Homo sapiens: one gene and its partners. The protein of the gene in region 2 purifies or fractionates together with the protein of the main gene of each other region. This does not show direct contact. Each region holds a gene or a part of one and is shown on either strand. Other genes may lie near its edges. The genes, in order: ABCB9, PCDHAC1, PDZD8 and DDR1.

Region 1 (5,473 bases), on a different chromosome or scaffold from region 2:
TTTTTTTTTTTTTTGTAGATGGAGTCTCACTCTGTCGCCCAGGCTAGAGTGCAGTGGCACAATCTCAGCTCACTGCAACCTCCATCTCCCGGGTTCAAGTGAGTCTCCTGCCTCAGCCTCCCGAGTAGCTGGGGTTACAGGCATGCACCACCATGCCCAGCTAATTTTTGTATTTTTAGTAGAGACAGGGTTTCACTGTATTGACCAGGCTTGTCTCGAACTCCGGACCTCAAGTGATCCACCTGCCTTGGCCTCCCAAAGTGCTGGGATTATAGGCATGAGCCATCATACTGGGCCTATTTTATTTTGTTTTGTTTTGTCTGTTTGTTTGAGCCAGATGGAGTCTGGCTCTGTCGCCCAGGCTGGAGTGCAGTGGCACAATCTCGGCTGACTGCAACCTCCACTTCCCAGGTTCAAGCAATTCTCCTGCCTCAGCCTCCCAAGTAGCTGGGATTATAGGCATGTGCTACCACACCTGGCTAGTTTTTGTATTTCTAGTAGAGATGGGGTTTCACCATGTTGGCCAGGCTGGTCTGCAACTCCTGACCTCAGGTGATCCACCTGCTTCGGCCTCCCAAAGTGCTGGGATTACAGGTGTAAGCCACCACTCATGACCCAGGTCTCCCCATTCTGATGCCTTCTCTTGCCCCACACCATACAGCTCTGCCTGGAGCCTGGAGGCTGGGTCCAGAGTGGCTCCTGGCTCCCCACTCTCAACACCAGGAATTCACCAGCCCAGGAGGCTGATAGTCTGGGAGAGCTCCTGGGGCCCGTCTCTTCTCAGCATCCATCTGCTGGGCGATGGGGGCTCTGGCCACCTGGAGCCGCTCCTGCCCCCGCATTGCCCACCACCCTGTGACTCACCAGATACTCGCTCTCGGCATCCAAAGCGCTGGTGGCTTCATCCAGGATGAGGACTGGGGGGTTCCGCACCAGAGCCCGGGCCATGGCCACCCGCTGCTTCTGGCCACCTGACAGCTGGGCGCCCTTCTCCCCTGTCTCTGTATGGTGGAGGCACAGAGACAATTTAGCAATGGGTGAGGCCGGGCAGCACCGGGGAAGAGTGAGAGGCCCTGCCCTGCAGCTGTGGAAAGGGCGGGCTGGAACCCACAACTTGAAAGCTCATGAAATGATGTTCCCCCCACCCAACTCATAAGGGGCATGCAGATTAAGCCTACATGCAAATTGATAGCAAGTTACCAATTTTCACTCATTCATTTGGCAGAAACCCAAACATCTGATAGCACACAGTGCAGGTGAGGCTGCAGGGAGACAGGCCCTCACCCGTCCTCCTGGAGAAGGGGAGTTGGAGCGAGCCCCATGGCTTGAAGAGCTGCAGCAATAACCCTGGGTCTATGAGTCTGTGCAGTGCAAAGGTTGTGTGTATTCACCACAGATGTGTGGCCTGTGGCCCCGCAAGCCCACCTGGACCAATTTTCCCCATGGACCGACTTCCTCCCATGCACAACAATATAGACACAGGTCACCTGTGACCCACAGCGCTGTTATTGCAAAAAATAAAACAAATAGACTCAAATGTCCATCAATAGGAAATTGAGTCAATCAATTATTATTATTTTAGAGACAGGGTCTCACTCTCTCACCCACGCTAGAGTGCAGTAGTACAATCACTGCTTACTGTAGCCTCAAACTTCTGGGTTCAAGCAATCCTCCAGCCTCAGCCTTCTGAGTAACTGAGACTACAGGTGCATGCCACCACACCTGGCTAACTTAAAATATTTTTCTGTAGAGGTGGGGTCTCACTACATTGCCCAAGCTGTTCTCAAACCCCTGGCCTCAAGCGATCCTCTTGCCTTGGCCTCCAAAGTGCTGGGATTACAGACGTGAGCCACTGCACCTGGCCACGCCACCAGTTCTTTATTATTTCATTTTTCTTTCATTGAGATGAAACTGACATAACATAAACATAACCATTGTAAAGTGAATAATCCGGGCTGAGCACGGTGGCTCCCAGCACTTTGGGAGGCCAACCAAGGTGGGCGGGTCACAAGGTCAGGAGATTGAGACCATCCTGGCTAATATGGTGAAACCCTGTCTCTACTAAAAATACACAAAATTAGCCGGGTATGGTGGCACATGCCTGTAATCCCAGCTACTCGGGAGGCCGAGGCAAGAGAATCACTTGAACCCGGGAGGAAGAGGTTGCCGTGAGCCGAGATCGCGCCACTGCACTCCAGCCTGGGCGACAGAGCGAGACTCCATCTCAAGAAAAAAAAAAAAAGTGAATAATCCAGTGGCATTTAGTGCATTCACAATGTTGCACAACCACCACCTCTACTGAATTTCAAAACACTATTCTAAAATAATATATATTTATTATATCAATTAATTACTAGAACTACTTAAGTTCATATCGAGGTAATTTTTTTAAAAATTAGTGTATTTAGTATATTTTAATTTAAAAATTCTTTTAAATTGACAAGTAAAAATAGTTTGTATTTAATGGTGTACAACGTGATGCTCTGAAATACATATACACTGTGGAATAGCTAAATCAAGCCAGTTAACATATACATTATCTCACATATTTATCACTTTTTTAAAGAGAGAACACTTAAAATCTACTCTCTTAGCTATTTTCAAGTACACAGTACACTGTTACTAAATATAGCTGGCCAGACACAGTGGCTCACACCTGAAATCCCACCACTTTGGGAAGCCAAGGCAGGCAGATCACCTGAGGTCAGGAGTTCAAGACCAGCCTGGCCAAAATAGTGAAACCCCGTCTCTACTAACAATACAAAAAAAAATTAGCAAGGTGTGGTGGTGGGCACTTGTAATCCCAGCTACTCAGGAGGCTGAGGCAGGAGAATCGCTTGAACCTGGGAGACGGAGGTTGCAGTGAGGCAAGATTACTCCACTCTACTCCAGCCTGGGCGACAGAGTGAGACTGTCTCAATTAAAACACAAACAAACAAAAAACTATAGTCAACAGGTCTCTTGACCTTATTCCTAAGGGAAAATTTTTATCTTTTGATCAACATCTCCCCAACCCCCCTATACATTGTATATATTTAATTATTGAAAAGGGGCTATTCGTGTGGTTCAAAAATCTAAAAATACAGGCTGGATACAATGGCTCATGCCTGTAATCCCAGCACTTTGGGAGGCAGGAGGATTGCATGAGCCCAGGAATTTGAGACCAGCCTGGGAAACATAGCAAGACCCCGTCTCTACAACAAAAATAAAAAGTGGGGTGGAAGGATGGCTTGAGCCCAAGAGGTTGAGGCTGCAGTGAGCCGTGATCACGCCACTGCACTCCCACCTGGGTGACAGAGCAAGCCCCTGCCTCAAAAAAAAAAAAAAAACTAAAAAAACTAAAAATATATAAAACTCTAAATAATGAAAAGTTTAAGTTCTTTCTTCAGTTCCCTCCTGCTCCCACCAAAACGTCTTTCATTAGTTGCTTACATGTCCTTGTCTAGTTTCTTTATGCAAATATGAACATGTTATTTTTATCTCCCCAGTCCTTTAATAGGAAAAAAAAAACCCAGCTCCTTATGCTCTGCACCTGGCTCTTCTCACTCAGCATCCTATCTCAGTGACCTTTCCATACTGCTATATGGAGAGCTGCCTCCTCCTCTGCCTCCACCTCCTCCTCCGCCTCCACCTCCTCCCCCTTCTTCTACTTCCTCTTTTTCCCAGCAGCATAATATTCCAGTGTATGGGCTTCTATAATAATTTACTTAATAAATATTTTGCTGAGTCACAGCACAGTGGCTCATGCCTGTAATCCCAGCACTTTGGGGATTGCAGGAAGATTGCTTGAGCGCAGGAGGTTCGAGTCTGGCCAGGGTAACGTAGCGGGACCCCATCTCTACAAAAAAAAGAGCAGGTGGCAGGGGGCAGTGCTTAACTCAGAGGGTTATGTCCCTGAGGGTGACCCTGTGGGCCCAGGAGAGGGGCCACCCCCAGCTCCACACCTGTGCTGTAGCCGTCCTGGAGTTCCATGATGAAGCCGTGGGCATTGGCCTTCTGTGCGGCCTCCACCACCATCTCGAAAGGCACAGTGGGCAGGCCGTAGGAGATGTTATCCGTGATGGAGCGGGCGAACAGCACGGGCTCCTGGCTCACCAGGGAGATCTGGGGAGGAGGGAGCATGGAGCATGAGAGGCCAGGAATGTGTTCATCCAGCTGTCCCCAGCAGCCTTGCTGCCTGGGGCCTGGAGACACCAGCAGTCTCAGGCCTGAAACCTGATCAGGGCCCAGTGACTGCACTGAGCTGCCTCTCTTCTTCCCCAACAGTGACTCCCGCCTGTACCCACAAGCCCTCAGCCTCCCCTAATCAGCAAACTGGGGCCTGCTACATTTGCTGCTCTGGGATAAGCCAAGTTCCCTGACCTCTAAGAGAAAGCTCACTGGCCATCCCTGTCCTGAAAAAAAGAAAGAGGGATAGAATATAGAATGTTGCTGTGAATGAGTCTGCTCATCTCAGGAAGCAAGAGGCCACAGCAGGGCTCCAGGTCACACAGACTGCCCTGGCGGTGGTCCCCTCCCTTCTAAGAGAACAATTTAAAGGAGCTATCATCTCTAGATTCCAGTTTCAGGAATCTGGGCCTACAAAAATAATAGTATGGCCAGGCCTGGTGGCTCATGCCTGTAATCCCAGCACTTAGGGAGGCAGAGGCAGGAGAATGGCTTTAGTCTAGGAGTTCAAGACCAGCCTGGGCAACACAGAAAGACCCCATATCTACAAAATGAAAAAAATATATAGTATGGAAGATATCATTGCAACACCATAAGTAGCAAAAGTTAATTAGTTAATTAATTAAATTAAAATGGAAACAATCTAGGTGTCCATAAATGGGGATTGGTTAAATAGTGACAGTGCATCCTTAAAACTGAATTGTAATAGATACATATACACAGCATGATTCTATTTTTGTTTAAAAAAATTATAAACGTGTACCTTCATATATTGATATATTTCTATAAAGATAGGAAACACATTGAAAAGGATATTTACTAAACTGTTAACACTGGCTACCTCCATGTGGTGGAATTCAAAAGGTAAGGTGGAGGGGAACATTCATGTCTTAGTTACAAGATTCATTACAACTATGAGAATATGATTAGCTTGTAGCATTTTATTGTTTTATGTTTATAGAAATTAACATTTTAAATTTAAAAATAGAGGCCAGCCATGGTGGTTCACACCTGTAACACCAACAGTTTGGGAGGCTAAGGTGGGAGGATGGCTTGAGCCCAGGAGTTTGAGATCAGCCTGAGCAACACAGTGAGAACCCGTCTCTACAAAATAATTAAAAATTGGCCAGGTGTACACGGTGGCTCATGCCTGTAATCCTAGCACTTTGGGAGGCCGAGGTGGGCGGATCACCTGAGGTCAAGAGTTTGAGACCAGCCTGACCAACATGGAGAAACTCTGTCTCTACTAAAAATAAAAAATTAGCTGGGTGTGGTGGTGCATGCCTGTAATCCCAGCTACTCAAGA
Region 2 (6,016 bases):
GTGAAGATTTCCCATACTGTTCTCTGTATGCATTTTTCCTTTTTTCCTCACGCCCTAATCTATACCCACACATACTATCCCTCTAGGTGCAGCTCAGAATTCCTAAACCTGGTATAATTGGAGGCATGGCTGCAGACCTAAAAGTTCGGTACATCTTTACAGTTGTATTTCATCTGTTTAAGGCAGAAAGAATAAATTTTCATTCCAAAGCAGTTAGCTTGCTTAGCAGCATTAATTTAAAATGAAGAAATGCACATCCTAATCTCTGGCACTGAAGCAGAAAATTAGTTTTGGTTTAGAAATTTGGTGAAGAATAAGTTCAATTTTTATGGGCTGTTTTGCATCCTGGTGAGATCTAATGAGGTCTGTACTTGTGACTACCTAATAGGCTGACATGTTTCCTCCTTTAATTTTATCTGAGACTTGGTGTCAATGATTTTTTGGTTTCTTAATTCAAAAAGGCAAACTAGCCAAGGGGTATTTACTACTTATATTGCCTTATATCACAGTGTGCCCTTTCTAGTTCCCTAGAAGAGATAACGAATGGGTTTGTGTGTTTAGGGAGGTAACTGGTTTTTAGTGGAACACTGGCATTATCAATCCCACTCTTAGTGTTAAAAAGAGAATGCCCGAGCTACCCCTCTCCCCACCATTTTAATCAGCAATTTTTAAATGTTTTCAAATATTATAGAAATATGCAGGCTGATGCCAGGTGCGGTGGCATGGGGCTCACACCTGTAATCCCAGCACTTTGGGAGGCCGAGGCAGGCCAATCACTTGAGGTCAGGAGTTCGAGACCAGCTTGTGCAACATGGCGAAACCTCACCTCTAATAAAAATACAAAAATTAACCGAGCATGGTGGTGCGCGCTTGTAGTCCTAGCTACTTAGGAGGCTGAGGCAAGAGAATCGCTTGAACCTGGGAGGGGGAGGTTGCAGGGAGCTCAGATCGTGCCACTGCACTCCAGCCTGGGTGACAGAGCAAGAACCTGTCTCAAAAAAAAAAATAAAATAAAATAAAATAAAATAAAATAAAATAAAAAGTTAAAAAAAAAATGCAAGGTGAGTGCAGTGGCTCATGTCTGTAATCCTAGCACTTTAGGAGGCTGAGATAAGATGGGAGGATCGCTTGAGCCCAGAAGTTTGAGACCAGACTGGGCAACAAAGCAACACGCTCATCTGGAAAGGAAGGAAGGAAGGAAGGAAGGAGGGAAGGAAGGAAGGAAAAAAAATTTCAAACATACACAAAAGTTGAGAGAATTGTGTAATTGACCCCAATGTACCATCACCCAGCTTCAATAATTATCGATACTTTTAGGCAGGTTTCTACCAGAAAATATGTCCTGGAAACTTTAATTCTTGATCTGTGTTCAGATTTTGCCTTTCAAATGTTTCATTATTGGGGCTTTGGACATATTGCACCTGTATTAAAAGAAGGATTTGAGTGAGGAATTTAGTGCTTCATAGTCAATAGTCAATGAGTCTCCTTTTGGCTCGCCTCCTTCTTAGGGAAAGGAACTGGTTGTAGGGTGTTAGGCAGAATTTGGGTGTATCTGTTGTGGCTCAGAGATGTTTCTCATAGAACTGATCACTGTCCCAATATCCACGCAAAAGACCAAATTAAAAGCGAGGAGAAATACCTAATGTAAATGACAAGTTAATGGGTGCAGCACACCAACATGGCGCATGTATACATATGTAACAAACCTGCACGTTGTGCACATGTACCCTAGAACTTAAAGTATAATAATAATAATAATAATAATAATAATAATAATAAAGCGAGGGTGGGTATCTAGCCTATTCTTATCCTGCCTCATGGTGTTTTCTAAATATTTACAGAAAGAAAATTTACAGAGTAGTTTCCTGGTCAAACTCTAATGAGTATCTCAGTACTTTCCCCTCCACTTCTCACGTCTTCTTTGGGGACGGGTCGTCAAGTCTTTGAGTTTCTAGTTATTGCTATTGACTGGTTTATAACCTCCTCTTTCACCCAGATCGTCAAGGGCCGTTTGCAAAGCACTCCCAAGTAGAGCCTCTTGGAGAAGGAGAAACTGCTATCACGCAAAAAAAAAGCCTTGAGCTCGCTGGCTCCGCTGCCTCGAAAAGCCAGAGTCCGGAGGCAGTTTGATGCGGACACTATTCCCCAACCTTCTTCCCCTCCTTGTCGTCTCTATTGCCCTCTTGGCAGCTCCTGGGATACAAGAGGGTGCAGGACAGACTTCAACCCGCAGCAGGATCCAGCGCGGAAAGCTCTGCAGCAGGATCCAGCGCGGAAAGCCCCCCGCAGCACTTCTTTCGGGGGGCTCCTGTTTCCTTAAGCCTAGAAGGTGTGGTCGCTCACGTTCACCGTCCCGCCTCTCGCCGCCTCCGCTCGGCAGCTCCACGCTGAGTCCCGCCCTCTCCGCCGGAGAGGTGCGCCGGGGTCAGAGCGCCGGGACCCGACGCGCGGCTCCCAAAGGGCGGCAGGAAGAGCCCAGCTGGGCTCAGCCACAGTTATCAGCAATCTGCGGGCAGAGGATGTGGAGGTTAAGATCTGGGCAGCCTCAGGGCGTTGTCCTAGAAAACACCGTTTAAGGAGAGAAGTGTTAGTGTCTCGGGGCGTCTCCCAGGCTCCGCCCTGCGCCCGCAGCCAGCGTGGTGGTCGAGACCCCAGCCCGCTGCTACTGGAGACAGCACCTCTCGCGCCCGGGCGGGCGGCCTCGTCTCTGCACCCCTAGGCGGCGCTGCGCTCCTCAACACCCGGCCGGCTCCGCTTTCCCAGACGGCTGCCCAGCCTCCAGCCTAGCAAGCCCGGCTCCCAGCTGGCCAGCCCCGGCAATGCCGGCGTTCGGGAGGCGCAACGTCGGCGGTCGCTGAGTATCCAGCCCGCAGCAGTGACGGCCGGCAGGAGCGTGCTCTTCCCCGCGGCTCGTGCTCTCCAGGAGTCCGGAGCATGGTCCTGGGTCACCGTTGGTGTAGCGTGTTGGTGGAACGTGGACGCCTAGAGGGAGGATGGTGGGCTGTGGGGTGGCAGTTTTATGTTTGTGGGTTTCCTGCGGCGCTGCAGCGGGACAGCTCGAGTACTCAGTGCCGGAGGAGACGGAGCGGGGCGTAGCCGTAGGCAATCTCTCCGCGGACTTGAGGCTGCCAGCGGCCGCTATGTCCTCGCGGAACTTTCGCTTCCTTTCCAGCCACCGCGAGCTCTACTTCGGGGTGGATCTACCCAGCGGCAATTTGGTGGTCAGAGAGCCGGCGGACCGCGAACAGCTGTGCAGGGCCAAAGCTGCCTGCGTCTTGACCTACGACCTGGTGCTCGAGGACCCGCTGGAGCTGCACAAGATTCGGATTCACGTCCTGGACACCAATGACAACTCACCTCTCTTTCCTGCCGGCGACGTGCAGCTGCACATCCCCGAGTTCCTGACGCCCGGAGCCCGCTTTACTCTCCCGAATGCCCAAGATGACGACGAGGGAAGCAATGGGATACTAAGCTACAGCCTAAGCCCCAGTCAGCACTTTCGCCTGGACATGGGATCGCGGGTTGACGGCAGCGAATACCCGGAGTTGGTGTTGGAGAAAGCACTGGATCGCGAACAGCGCGCCACCCACCTGCTGGTGCTTACAGCTCGGGACGGCGGGCTACCTGCCCGCTCAGGAGACGCACAAGTCACCATCATTGTGGTGGACACAAATGACAACGCGCCTGTATTTGAGCGCTCCGTATACCGCACCAAGGTTCCAGAGACTGCACCCAATGGGACTGTGTTATTCCGAGTTCAAGCCTTGGATCCAGATGAAGGGTCCAATGGGGAAGTCCAGTACTCCCTAAGCAACAGCACGCAAGCAGAGCTGCGACACCGCTTTCACGTGCACCCTAAAAGTGGGGAGGTGCAAGTAGCTGCTTCACTAGGTCCGCCTGAAACGCTCTTGGAGGCATACATTGAGGCGAGGGACGAAGGTGTCTTTGGTTTAGCTAGCACCGCTAAACTGCTGGTGGAGGTGACTGACGTGAACGATCATGCCCCCGAACTGGACTTCCTGACTCTTTCGAACCCAGTACCTGAGGACGCTGCCCCTGGCACAGTGATTGCTCTCTTTAGTGTAAAGGATGAAGACCTCGATTCTAATGGTAGGGTCATTTGTGGCATGTCTAGTGCAGGCCCTTTTCAGCTGACGGCTTCCTTTGACAACTACTACAGCCTGCTGATTGATGGGCCCCTGGACCGGGAGCAGATCAGTGAATACCAAGTCCTGATCACGGCCTCAGATAGTGGCTCACCCCCACTTAGCACCCGAAGGACAATCACTGTGTCAGTTGCTGATGTGAATGACAATACACCAAACTTTCCTCAACCCCAGCAGGAACTTTTCGTTGCTGAAAACAATGGCCCTGGGGCCTCTCTAGGCCGAGTGTTTGCCCAGGACCCCGACCTGGGGAAGAATGGCCTTGTCTCTTATGAGCTGTTGGATGTTATCTCTGAAGGGCCATCAGCCTCTAGCTTGCTGGCAGTGGAATCATCCAGTGGGGCCATCACTGCCAAAACTTCCTTTGACTTTGAGCAGCTCAGGGGGTTTCATTTCCAAGTAGAAGGCCGGGATGGTGGCATTCCTCCCAGAAGTGCAACAGTGACTATAAACTTGTTTGTGGTAGATAGGAATGACAATTATCCGGTTATCTTGTTTCCCTTGCCCAGAAATGGTTCTGTCCCAGTGGAAATTGTGCCCCGCTCTGCCAGGACTGGACACTTGGTCACAAAAGTGGTAGCAGAGGATGCTGACAGTGGTTCTAATGCCTGGCTTTCCTACCACATCTCCCGGGCGTCTGACTCTAGTCTCTTTAGAATTTCAGCCAATATAGGTGAGCTCCGTACTGCTCGCTTAGTTCTTCCCACTGATGCAGTTAAGCAGAGGGTGGTGGTAGTGGTTCGGGACCATGGAGACCCACCACTTTCCTCCTCTGTCACTCTGGGTGTGCTGTTGAGCAACTCTGTCCCTCAGTTACTTCCAGACTTTGAAGATGTCTGGGAACCAGGAGGGCAGCTTTCTGCCCAGAACTTGTATTTAGTAATTGCCTTGGCTTGTATTTCCTTTTTATTTCTGGGGTGCTTACTTTTCTTCGTGTGTACCAAGTTGCACCAGAGCCCAGGCTGTTGCGCTCAGAGCTGCTGTCGCTCTACAGAGGATCTGAGGTATGGAAGTAAGATGGTTTCAAATCCTTGCATGACATCAGCCACCATAGATGTCACTACAGTTGAGAGACTTTCTCAGACTTATCTCTATCGGGCCTCTCTGGGACTTGGTTCTGATAATAACAGTTTGCTGTTGCGTGGGGAGTACAATGCTGCCGACCTGCGAAATCTTGCCACTGGGGTAGGACTGAATTTGCCAATATCCTGTATTCAGATTCGGAATAGGAAAGGGGATCACGCTAATGTCAATGCCATGGTAAGCAAATTTTATGGAATTTGATTCCTTTGGCCCGGAGATGGCTGCTAGCTGTGTTTTGAAATATTTCTTAGACAAGCCTTTCACAACATTTCATCAATTGAACTAAACACTCCTTCTTAGCACTTCCTGTGCCAAGAAATCTGGAAGTATAGAAGTATTAGAAGATTGCCCTAGGCCTCAAGGGACTTATAGTTTATTTTTGAGAAACAAGGGCAAAAATTAAAACCTATTTAAGAACAATAAAAGTAATATGACATAAAGGTCTAAAATTAAAAATAAAATACCAAAATATTTTATAAGCAACAGATGTGTAAGGCACTCTAATATTTAAAGTGAAGAATGAAAAATATGTAAGAGTCTGCTTTATATGAATATAATATGGAAGGTGAAACATTTACTTAAACTATTGCAATGCATTATTAAAAGATGACGATAACCACAAAAGATGTAAAAATAAATTACAATGGGGGTTAAAAGAAGGGAGAAAGGGAACATAAGAGAACATTTGAGTGAGGAGGAAGGAGTCAGAGAAGGCTTTGTGATAGAGATCACAGATTTAGTTGGATCTTTAATACGATATACCATTT
Region 3 (5,487 bases), on a different chromosome or scaffold from region 2:
CTAGGTAGTATGCACTAAGCACTTACTGAAGATAAATGACTATTTTTTAAATGACATAATTATTCATCTCTAAGACAATGATCTTGCAATTCAACTTATACAGAGATATGACGAGATATAGAGATATGAGCAACAGTACAAGAAAAAGCACAACAGGTTAAAAATTAGCTATTACAAGATTATTCCAGCATAGCTAGAGTAATGCACAATGCCATTGTCTATTCTCCCCAAATATTAAAGGTTAGATTTCCTATCAACATTAGTAAGTAAAACTGTCACTATTATAACCATCAAGGAATTTTAGTAGCTATTTTAAAATATTTTCCAATGTAATAGAAAGGAAAAAAGTATGAAAAAGTAAATAAATACAACATATTACACTTGACTTTACAAATGATTTTGTCAGTTTTCTGTGAATTTACTTTGAAAGATTTTGAGATACGGATCACTCAATTCATTAAATTCAAATATACTGTCAATAAGTTGATGCCCCCCTTTTTGGAGATCAGTGAAGTAAATGCTTACATAGTTATTAATGACCCATTCCACTAAAGCAAACTATCCACCAAACTCGAACAAAAAGGAGACACTATCTACTTACCATCACTACATGGTAGAAAAATGGATTGCATTTCAAGGCATTTTTTTTTTTCTGGCAGAGTGACTTTTTAAAATTCAACATTATATTGACAATGTTTTTTTTTTTTTTTTTTTTTTTTGAGACAGTCTCACTCTGTTGCCCAGACTGGAATACAGTGGCGCAATCTTGGCTCACTGCAACCTCCGCCTCCTGGGTTCAAGCAATTCTCATGCCTCAGCATCCCCAGCAGCTGGGACTGCAGGTGCGTGCCATTTTTAGTAGAAGCGGGGTTTCACCATGTTGGCCAGGCTGGTCTCGAACTCCTGACCTCAAGTGATCCACCCACCTTGGCCTCCCAAAGTGCTGAGATTACAGGCATCAGCCACCACGCCAGGCCTGACAATGTCTTTTATTTATTTATTTATTTATTTTTACTTTTTGAGATAGAGTCTTGCTCTGTTGCCCAGGCTGGAGTGCAGTGGTATGATCTCGGCTTGCAGCAATCTCTGCCTCTCGGGTTCAAGCGATTCTCCTGCCTCAGCCTCCTGAGTAACTGGAATTACAGGCATGTGCCACCATGCCCAGCTAATTTTTGTATTTTTAGTAAAGATGGGGTTTCGCCATGTTGACCAGGCTGGTCTCGAACTCCTGACCTCAAGTGATCCGCCTGCCTTGCCCTCCCAAAGTGCTGGGATTACAGGAGTGAGCCACCGCACCTGGCCAACAATGTCTTTTAAAAAATAAAATTGCTCTATGACAGTCCCTTCAAAAATGTAATTAAAAGAAGGATAAAAATGATCACTCTCCCTCTCCACTCCAGCTATTAAGTCTTCTCATTTTCACTAATCAGCAACAGTAATGCTCCCTATTTACTCCTCCAGTACGGGTCTCAAATTCATATAACTCCAAGCCAGGCAAGTACCATCAATTAAGCACAGCAAATAAGGGGGGACTATAAACTCCACCTAGGAGCTTACACACCGAGTTTCAACCCCAAAGCTGCTACTACAGTCCATCTCTCCATCCTGTTGTTGCTCTGAGAAATGCAGCACTGGCGCTACAAGATATTCCAATTTTTCCTAACAGAAGCCACAAATCCAAAACACACAGAATTTTCCATTTTTTAAACAGTGCAGGCCAAATTAAAAGTACCTGCAAACTGAATCTGCTTGTCTATATACAATAATACTCCAGGAACACAAGCATCCGTAAGAATCTCAAATATTTGACTCCTAAACCCTAAACAGAGCTCCCCACCCAGACACTATTACTCAGACTCCATGTTTAAGATGAATTATCCACGTAGTAAAAGAACATTAGTGGTAATCTTTCTCCCTTGAGGATGGATTCTGAGGTTCATTTAAAAAAATATATTGCTATTATAATATACTATTTTAATTAAAAAATCAAACCAATTAACATTGAGGTGGATGAATGAAATTCCTAACTTGAATAAATCTGTAAACATATTGTCTACATATTATAATTCATTTTGTAAAATAAAATGTTTTACAAACATTGTAAGTTTGTTAACTTGGGTAAAATGAAATGTCAGTCAGCTGGGTCCTTAGAAAGCAACCACTTGAGCAACTTAGCATCTCTAGGTGAAACATCAGGAACTGGCAGTCCAGAGAGGCTGATTCACTTTAGCAACACGAAAAAGGCAAAATAAATGAAGGGGGAAAGAAGTAATAACAACGTTAACTGGCAAGATATTTGTTATGTAATGATTACAAATGCCAAAGGATCGTAAGACTCCATACAATTCTCTTTACTGCTTTAGCTCTACTAAGAAGATTAGATAGCTAAAAAAGAATAAACTAGGCCGGGCACAGCGGCTCACACATGTAACCCCAGCACTTTGGGAGGCCGAGGTGGGTAGACTGCCTGAAGTCAGGAGTTCGAAACCAGCCTGGCCAACATGGTGAAACCTGTCTCTTCTATTTGGAAACACAATTCTGCTCAATTAAAAAAGAAATGCCACGTGGGACAGTACCCAAAGATTTAGCCTCATGATTTACTTTTAAAAGGATCCTCTAAAATGACCAATTTAAGAAAAAAAAATCAGCTTTATAGTCATACTCTTCTCAAGAGTTCTAGGTTAGTTTGGAAAGATATCCCACATATTTACTATATCGATGGCATGCTTTTAAAAAATAAATCACTTAAGAACAACATAGTTTGTGTGTGTGTGTGTGTGTGTGTGTGTGTGTGTGTTTAAAGGTGGCCTGGCCTTATCAGAGCTGCGTTTCAACACTTGAAAGCTGTGTGACTTTAAGCAAGTTATTTAACTACTCCGAGCTCCATTTCCTCATCTGTAAAAAAAGATGAACACTAGCTAGTTTAATTTTCCCTGTGAGAAGTATGCTATATCTTAGATGTATTGTAATTCATTCTTATCTGAAACTTGAATCAGTCCCACATCATCACCAGTTTGTTTATTTATTTATTTACTTATTTATTTTGGAGACGGAGTCTCACCCTGTCGCCCAGGCTGGAGTGCAGTGGTGCGATATCGGCTGGCTGCAACCTCTGCCTCCCAGGTACAAGCCATTTTCCTGCCTCAGCCTCCAGAGTAGCTGGGATTACAGGCGCCCGCCACCACGCCCAGCTAATTTTTGCATTTTTACTAGAGACGGGGTTTCATCAGGTTGGCCAGGCTGGTCTCACACTCCTGACCTTAAGTAATCCGCCTGTCTCAGCCTTACAAAGTGCTGGGATCACAGGCGTGAACCACTGCACCTGGCCCATCACCAGTTTAAAACACTGGACAGAACAGCTACACAGACAAGAAGTCATCACTTGCTGAGGCAGCCCTTTTCATCGTCATACTTGCTATTTTCTTCTACTAAGCTAAAACCGGCTTCCTGGCTACTTCAACCCCATCAATCCCATTCTAGTTTAAATCTTACAAAGCGCCGGGCAAGGTGGCTCACACCTGTAATCCCAGCACTTTGGGAGGCTGAGGTGGGAGGATCACTTGAATGAACCCAGGAGTTCCAGACTAGCCTGGGCAACAAAGCAAGACCTATCTCTACAAAAAAAATTTTTTTTTAATTAGCCAGGAGTGGTGGCACACACCTGTGGTCCTAACTACTTGGAAGGTTGAGATGGGAGGATTGCTTGAGCCCAGGAGGTCGAAGCTGCCGTGAGCCATGATCCTGACACTGTACTCCAGCTCTGGGCAACCGAACAAAATCCTGTCTCAACAAACAAACGAAAAACACAAAAAAATTACTAAGTATAGCTAATTCAATTCTCACTAGACTCTAAGCTTCCTGAGGGCTGAGTTCAAGTATTGTTCAGTACTGAAATCCCAGCATCTACAACAAGGATAAGCATATAGCAGGTGTACAATAAACATTTACAGATTGAGTGATATGCTCTGTGCAGCTGACTGAGCATTGAGATGCCATCCAGTATAAATAGCACAGATGTGCATACTTCTGGAAATGATCATTTAATGCTTCACATTTAGAAGTTGAAATATCATAACCAAATTCATGCTGTTTTTAAAAAAATCCCTTCAAAGTGAAAAGCAATTTTGCCATACTTTTAAATGGTTGTTATTCAATGATACAGATAATAGTTTTTCAAAGTAATAAACTTCTCAATGCCTCCATAACTTATTCATAACTTACTTCAGATTTACCTAAATTCCAAGTCTACATTAAAAAAAAAATCTCAAAATGATATGTAATCTCACTGTCATTGGCTAGTCTACAAATTTCAAAATAATAATCTAGTCAAATTGTATTAACTGAAAGCTATCAGAAAACATCATAATTGAAGTTGTGATAGAATACCAAAATTTCTAGCAACTTTTTCTCATGACTTTTTTGGCAACACACTGCTATAAATAAACATCTCTCACTGCTTAAACACTAGAACCGAGTTATAATTTAATCACTGATATTCCAGAGGTTAAAAGTAGGTTTCATAAAGTATGTTCTACTTCACAGAACCAGAAATCGAACACAGTGAACAACCAGTTCACCACCCTCCGCAAATCTATGGAAATATTTCCATTACAAAGTAAATTTCTCCTGCCACGCAAGTTTTAAACTGTCACTCTGCGCTGTTAGCCTAAACAAAACATAATTGGTAAGGTACATCTGCCACATACAGAAGTCAATAATCCATTCCAAACCCAAAATATTTCTGGATTATCTTGCTCCTGAAAATTGACACTGGTAGAAAATTAGTGATCCAGAAATAGGCAACTTCCACTAAAAGGCAAGTAAAATTAGGTAAGTAAAATACAAGACTGACATAATTTTATAATAAAGGGCAAAATTTTAAAGGCTCAAATGTCTTAGTGAATACAAAATTAAAGGAGGACCGAAAGAGAAGTTAAAAATTCAGCTTTTTACAAAAGAAAAAGCACCTTCCACTCCACCTCTAGCCCTAAAAAAGTCTTTCCCCTTCCACTCCTACAATATTAAAACAAAATTTATATACTACTCAAAACTGTATACCACAAAATTTAAGCCATCAGATGCTGGAAGGCTTAAACAAAATTAAAATCACTACCTAGCATTAAAATACAATTTGTACAGTGACTTCAGGTCCCTTGAGAGAAGAACTTACAGTCACAGAGAGTAAATGCTTGATGGGCAGAGTCTGGATCTGTGTTCTACAATCTACCCAAAATGGGCAAATGACATTAATACAAAATGTAAAGTACACTATGTACAGGCTCCCAACTCCTTTCCCATCTGCTGTGGAAAGTATTCCCGGGCCGGGCGCGGTGGTTCACTCCTGTAATCCTAACACTTTGGGAGGCCGAGGCAGGCGGATTACTTGAGGTCAGGAGTTCGAAACCAGCCTGGCCAATACGGTGAAACTCCGTCTCTACTAAAAAATACAAAAAAAAAAAAAAAAAAAAAAAAAATCAGCAAGGCGTG
Region 4 (6,131 bases), on a different chromosome or scaffold from region 2:
AATGGTCAAATTCACCAGCCTCAGGGAAATACCAAGCAGACTGACAAGATATTTTTTTAAGGCTGTAACATATAAAAGTGGTAGAAAGTGATGAAAAGGGAGGCACCATGCTCAATGGCAGAAATGAGTGTTATCTTCTATTTGGAAAGCAATCTAGCAATGTCTATTATAATTAAAAATGCACATCCTCTTCGACCCAGCATTCCCTCGAGAGAGAAGCACCAGGAAGTAAGAACATATGTGCAGGTCTGGGTCTGGTGGCTCATGCCTGTAACCCCAGCACTTTGGGAGGCCGAGATGGGAGGATCACTTGAGGCCAGGAGTTAGAGACCAGCCTGGTGAACATAGTGAGACCCCATCTCTTTAAAAAAAGTGAAAAATAAAAATAAAAAAGAAGATTTCAAAGATGTTTATTATGGTACCTTTTGTAAGACATAAATCTGTAAGATATGTGAATGCCCACAGGGGACAGGCTGGAATTAAAAAAAATAAGGTTTATTGACTACTATGCAGCTATGAAAAGTAACAAAGAGGCAATATATTCCTAACTTTGTGTGATTTCCATGTATATCTGTTGAATATGAAAAGCAAGCAACAGAAGTATAAAAAATATCCCACCTTTTGAAAATAGAATAAACAAGCACCCATGTTTGTATATATACCTGTGTGTACGTCTAGAAGGAGAGAATATATAATAGAATATAACAATAGAATACAATATAACAAGAGTTAACATGAACGGGGCAAAAGAAAAGCAAATTTAAAAAGACAGGTTGATTGTACTATTTTTCTAAATCTTGTAACATAAATGCATTTATGTAAAATCATAAGATATGTAAAAGAATATGAAAATCATTTTGACTTTTAAAAAATAAATATGTCCCAGGAAAGGTTGGGCAATTCCTTGTTGAGGATATGATAGAATTAAACATCAGATAAGCCTGGACCAGCTCACCCTGCTGCCCTCCCACATAGGAGTCCAGAATTCTAAGAGAAGGGCAGAGGGGACCCCAGCACCTTCTAGTCTTACTGTCCCCTATAGCCCTCTAGGCCCAGGGTGGTCCCTGGACCATCAGCAATACCTGGAAGCATGGAAGAAATCAGAATCTCAGGCTCACCCTTGACCTGCTCAATCAAAATCTGCCTTTTAACACAATTCCCAGGTGACCTGTGCCCATTAAAGTTTGAAAATCCCTACTCTGTTCCTCAGGCCCAGGAAGCTTACCCCACATAAAACTATTCTAAATGGCATCTCCTTACAAACCCAAGTAACTACTCTCCCCTCCCCTGCTGCAGGAAAAGCTATCCTAACCTGTACTGGTCTCAGAGCCCTGTACTGAAGTCTCCAGGCCCTGGAGTCCTGAGGGACTCGACTGCCACCTCTTATCAGGTTCAGGGCATCTTGGGCCCAGTTATCCCTGCTCTGCCTTCCTGAGACCCAGACATCCAGTCCCCCCAGTTCCCACTTCCAGAAGGTGGCTGCCTCTGAGGGACTGAGGAAAGGCTGAGTTGCCTTGGAGACGAGGGCGGGTCTAAAGACAAGGAAGGCAGGTCACCCCAGGAGGTAGGAGGAGTGGGGGATACTCCCCCATCCCTTTGTCCTCCTCCAGCTGCTCCCACAATGCACTAGGGCAGGAATGTAAGAGGCAGCTGAGACCCCAGAGCTCTGAAGCAGCAGCTGAGGGGGACGACTGAGTTGTGGGGGGCACTCAGAGGCTAGAACCAGAAGGCATCACGCCTGGTCCCTTAGGGTCCAGCGCCGGGGAGCAGGCTGCCAGAGTCCCAGGAGACTGGCTTGGAATTCCTGGGTGCCGCTCTCCAACCCCACCTCTCTCGGGAACAGCGGGGCTCTTGTTCCCCTAAGTAACCTTCATGCCTATCCCAGATGAGTCATCAGAGCCACACAGAGCCGAGAGGAGCCCGGGGCAGAGATACAAAGGCAGGCAGAGGATACGAGGCAGGCGGAGACAGAGCGAGAGCCACAATGCAAGAGGTAAATAGAGCAGGCTCAGAAACACGGGGCACAGAGCCAAGCAGAGGAACACGGAGAAGCACAGAGACGTCTGGGCTGTCTGTTCTCCAACACCCCCAGTCACCTCATCTCTCTCCACTGGGTCTTCAGTCCACAGTCAGAGACCCAGAGGGCAAGAGAGGACAAGCCCAGAAGACCTTCCCCAATCCCACCCCCTTCCACTCCATTACAACCAAAGACAAACCAGGGGCCAGGCCACCCTGCCTCAAGCCCTTCACGCTCCTCTCCCAACCCCCAAGTCCCACTCAGACAACACCCACACAGCTCTGTACACACACACACGGTGAAACACACAAACTTACTGAACTGGCTGTAAACAGCGAGGCTAAATGTGGCATGCACACACCCACCTCTCAGTGTCCCTGACAACCCTCACAGAGTTTCTGAGACAGAGCAAACACAGAAGCTCATGCATACATCAACCCGTCCACACCTTGGCATTCCTTCAAGTCCAACCCCATCGCTCAGTGAATAGCCACCTTCAGACACCTGTGAACATGAAATGACAGACACCACATGCTCCTGTGACCAAAAGACAGCATGAGACACACACACCCGGGCCCTTGGGCACAGGATCCCCAGAGAACTGGGGCCCAGCCTCTAACACACATGGGTGACCAAGCCAGAGGGACGTCGAGGGGGCAGGGAACAGGTGGGCGCTGGGTGGGAAGAGTGGCAATAAGGACAACAGCCTTTCCCTGCCTTTCCACTCACTCCCCTTTCACCTGTCTCCACCACACCACTCAGTCCTGGACACACCTACAGGCCCTCAGCAACAGCCAGCGAGCTTGGGCGCCTGCCTCTGGCTGCTGGAAGCGCTGGGAAGAAATGTTCAGCCAAGAGCCAGGCATGGGGGGGTGGGACCCTGAAGCTGGCGCTCACCGGCAGTGACATTCTCTCATGCCAGAGCTAATTGACCATCCAGCCGGGAAGAGTGGTGTCACTGGTGGGTTAGAGTGGCAGTCCCTCTTTTTGCTGGACTGTGACCAGACTGACCAACTGGGTGTTGGCTGAGCGGAGGCTTAGCAGTTAGATGCCCGCAGGGACTGGCCAGGTGGAGGGCAGGCGATAGATGAGCTGACTCAGTGGGGCTGCACAGGAGCACCTCCTCCCGGGGCTCAGTTCCTCCGCACTGAGTGAGAGGGGACTTGCCTCAAGGCTGGAGGCTCAAAACTCTTTCTGGGAGGTCACGGGCTTCACCTCCACCCAGTCCCCGCCCCCGGTTTTCAGACGGTATGCCAGAGCATCGGGGAGGCGGGCAGGGAGGCTTAGAAGAGCTGGACGACCAAGCATGGCTCGGGACGTCCTGCCTCCCCCGCCCCTCGCCCTGCAGGCGCCGCCGCGCGCCCCCACCCCAAGAGCCCCAGGCCTCCGCCCGCGGGTTCCGCCGCCGCTCTCCCTACCTCTCATCGCTCTTCCCGGCAGACCCAGGCGTCCGACCCGGGAGCGGGGCCTCTTCGGCGGCGGGGCGAGGGGCGGGGGAGGCGGAGGGAGCCAGGAGCCGGGAGCCGGGAGCGGGAGGCGCCGGCGGGGCTCGGGTGTCGGGAGGCGGCTCCCGAGAGCAGCTGTCGGGGGCCTGTTCCGGGGAGAGGAGCCAGGGCTGGGGCGGCTCGGGCCCAGGCGCCGCCTCCCCCTCGCCTCGGCTCCCTCCCTTCCTCCTCCCGCTCCTCGCTCCCCTCCCTCCCCTCGGCCTTCTCGCCGCGCGTTCGGGCTCGCAGCCCTCCCTTCCCCCTCCCGGACCCAGTAGTCCCAGTGGCTCCCACGCCCGGCGCCGAGCTCCAGGCCCCGCGCCCGCCACGCCCACCCCGCGCGCTAGCGCCCGGCCCGGCCTCCCCCAGGTAACCCGCCCGCCAAGCCCGCCTGGGCGCTCCCAGGCCGCCCAGCCGCCCGCGCCGCTGCCTCCGGCCGGCTCCGCGCCCAGCCCCCTCCACCCACTCGCAGCCCACCCCCGCTTCCCCAAACGAGAACCTCCAAAGCTGGCGCCCCAGGGGGCTGGCTGCAGTCCCGCTCAGGGCCCACGAGGGGAAGACGCCCCTCCTACTTCTGGGATCGGTTCCTGGTGGGAGAGGCAAAGGGGAGCAGCCCCAGGGCACAGAGGAAGAAGCAGGTTCCCACAGGCTCGGCCCAGCCCAGCTGCGGGAGTTAGCCCAGAGAAGGGAGCAGAGCTCAGGTCTCAGGGCTCACCTGTCCAGCCAGGCCCCAGACTGCTCTTCTCCCTCCACCAACCTTTGCTCCTCTCTCGCAGCCTGTGCGCTCCCGCCCCTACGACCCAACCTGGAAGGCCCCAGACCCTGAAGGCGGGCCCACTCTCTTCTCCTTCTCCTCTCAGTTCCTCTCTCTGAAGGGCGTTCTAAGGGACCCGGGGGTCCAGACGCCCAGGCCCTGATTCCCCTGGGCTCCCAACGGAGTGGAGTGGGAGGGGGACTCAGGAGTCCTCAGGGCAAGCCTCCCTCAGGCCCAGCCAGCTCTGGCCGTAGTGGGCCAGAGGGTCTGATCACTGGCCAGAAGAGGCCAAAAATGAGGCCAGGACAAAGTTGAGTGGTCGGGAGGAGGAAGAAGAGGAGCAGGAGAAGGATGGAGGCACACTGAAAATCACACACAGTCAAAAGGAAGGGGACCAAGAGACCCAGGGAAGATGAAACAGTGAGACTGAGTAGGCAAAGCAACTGAGAGAGCTACTGGGCAGAGGATGGAGCGGGACAGAACAGCTTGTGGTGGGAGGTGCTTTTTCCCCACTCAGCACTACCTCAGCCCCTCACCTCTCTCCACACCCCCACACCTGCTCACCACCTAGACAATGTCACGGTCACAGGAAGTTCTCGCTCCACTGCACATCTCCGCCCCAGGAACCTCACAGTAGATAAAAACATACCCTGCTTGCAGTCCCAGACAACAATCCCAAGAAAGAAACACGAAGTCCCAACCAGACAAGTACACAAAAGCACTACCAGGAAGAAGCTGGCCCTTGGGAAAGGCCGAGGCACACATGGGCACTAGTTCAGAAGCCCAAGGACGTTCCAACGGCTGAGGGACCTGCTAACAGACAGCCCCAGGGTCACTCGAAGAGCAGCTTCTTCCCGCCTTCCTGTCCCACCAAGCCCCCAGGGATTCATTCCCCCAGAACACCTACCCCTCCAGAGAACAGCAGCTGGGGAATCTAGGCCCAGGAGACGCTGGACTGGGGGTGGGGCCAGCCTGGGGGTGGGGCCAAGGCTTCCCAAGTCACCTCACCTGGCAGCCCACAGCCCCTCCTTCCAGGAGCTGTGCTCTGGGAAAGCCCCAACAGGCCTGCCAGGCAAGCTACAGCCCGTCATACCCTGGTGGGACATTCCACACCCCAGGCCCACGCTGACCCCAGCTAAGTGGCATGGCAGTGCCAGACAGAGGGGTCCACTGGGGAGAGCAGAAGGAGCTAGAGAGTCCTGAAACCTTTGTCCCCTCTTCTCACTGCCTCAGGAGAAATTCCTAGTGGTGATGCCCACCTCGCCCCAGCTCTAGGCTGGAGGAGTGGGAGGGATGCAAGGCTGGGGCCCAGTGGAGTCAAGTGACAACGGAAAGGGAGCTGGAGCCAGCTGGAATGCGGGACTCGGAGCCGAGATTCCCAGGGGCCTGAGAGGGAAATCCCAGCCATCCTGGGGCCCAGAGAGCAGCACCAAAGACCAAGAGGGCCTGATTACCCATCCGTGGTCCCCAGAGCCCATTCCACATCTCCTGCATCACTCCGAACCCCAGAGGCCCCCTGTGTCCCTGAGAACCCCCAAATGACCCTCTACCATCCCCTCCCATCCTGGGCTTCCCTCCCCTTCAAGCCAGTGGCAGCCTGCTGCCCAGGAAGGAGAGGATGGGAAACAGCTGAAAAAATGTGAGGAGAGGCACGTAGGAGAGGGGAGAAGGCAGCTTCAGGCCTGCAGACCACCTGGCCACAGGAGGGAAGCCCAGCACGACCAGCGAGCGAGAGGACGGACCAGATGGGCCCCCACACATACACTAGCTGCAGTCCCCTTCCGGGAGCTGCAGCTGCCTCTGGAGGAGCAGGCTGGGTCAGCAGCTGGGGAGAGTAAGAAGCGACGGGTGGGGGGCAGGGTGAAGGAGTGTACAA

Evidence for each region.
Region 1: the proteins of PCDHAC1 (region 2) and ABCB9 purify together in Homo sapiens (affinity purification with mass spectrometry; 2 studies listed by BioGRID and IntAct, with this or other methods). This does not show direct contact.
Region 3: the proteins of PCDHAC1 (region 2) and PDZD8 purify together in Homo sapiens (affinity purification with mass spectrometry; one large-scale study listed by BioGRID and IntAct). This does not show direct contact.
Region 4: the proteins of PCDHAC1 (region 2) and DDR1 purify together in Homo sapiens (affinity purification with mass spectrometry; one large-scale study listed by BioGRID and IntAct). This does not show direct contact.

Annotation. Positions count from the first base shown.
Region 1 is NC_000012.12:122,931,328-122,936,800, forward strand, and holds part of ABCB9 (ABC-type oligopeptide transporter ABCB9), read right to left. Parts: intron 4,105-5,473; coding exon 3,945-4,104; intron 1,002-3,944; coding exon 865-1,001; intron 1-864. UniProt on the Homo sapiens protein: ATP-dependent low-affinity peptide transporter which translocates a broad spectrum of peptides from the cytosol to the lysosomal lumen for degradation.
Region 2 is NC_000005.10:140,923,900-140,929,915, forward strand, and holds the start of PCDHAC1 (protocadherin alpha-C1 isoform 1 precursor), read left to right. Parts: upstream 1-2,399; 5' UTR 2,400-2,993; coding exon 2,994-5,426; coding exon of another isoform or gene 5,427-5,450; exon of another isoform or gene 5,451-5,613; intron 5,614-6,016. UniProt on the Homo sapiens protein: Potential calcium-dependent cell-adhesion protein. May be involved in the establishment and maintenance of specific neuronal connections in the brain.
Region 3 is NC_000010.11:117,368,157-117,373,643, forward strand, and holds part of PDZD8 (PDZ domain-containing protein 8), read right to left. Parts: intron 1-5,487. UniProt on the Homo sapiens protein: Molecular tethering protein that connects endoplasmic reticulum and mitochondria membranes. PDZD8-dependent endoplasmic reticulum-mitochondria membrane tethering is essential for endoplasmic reticulum-mitochondria Ca(2+) transfer.
Region 4 is NC_000006.12:30,882,015-30,888,145, reverse strand, and holds the start of DDR1 (epithelial discoidin domain-containing receptor 1 isoform 2 precursor), read right to left. Parts: upstream 3,628-6,131; 5' UTR 3,436-3,627; intron 3,167-3,435; exon of another isoform or gene 2,927-3,166; coding exon of another isoform or gene 2,915-2,926; intron 2,863-2,914; exon of another isoform or gene 2,758-2,862; intron 2,522-2,757; exon of another isoform or gene 2,466-2,521; intron 1-2,465. UniProt on the Homo sapiens protein: Tyrosine kinase that functions as a cell surface receptor for fibrillar collagen and regulates cell attachment to the extracellular matrix, remodeling of the extracellular matrix, cell migration, differentiation, survival and cell proliferation.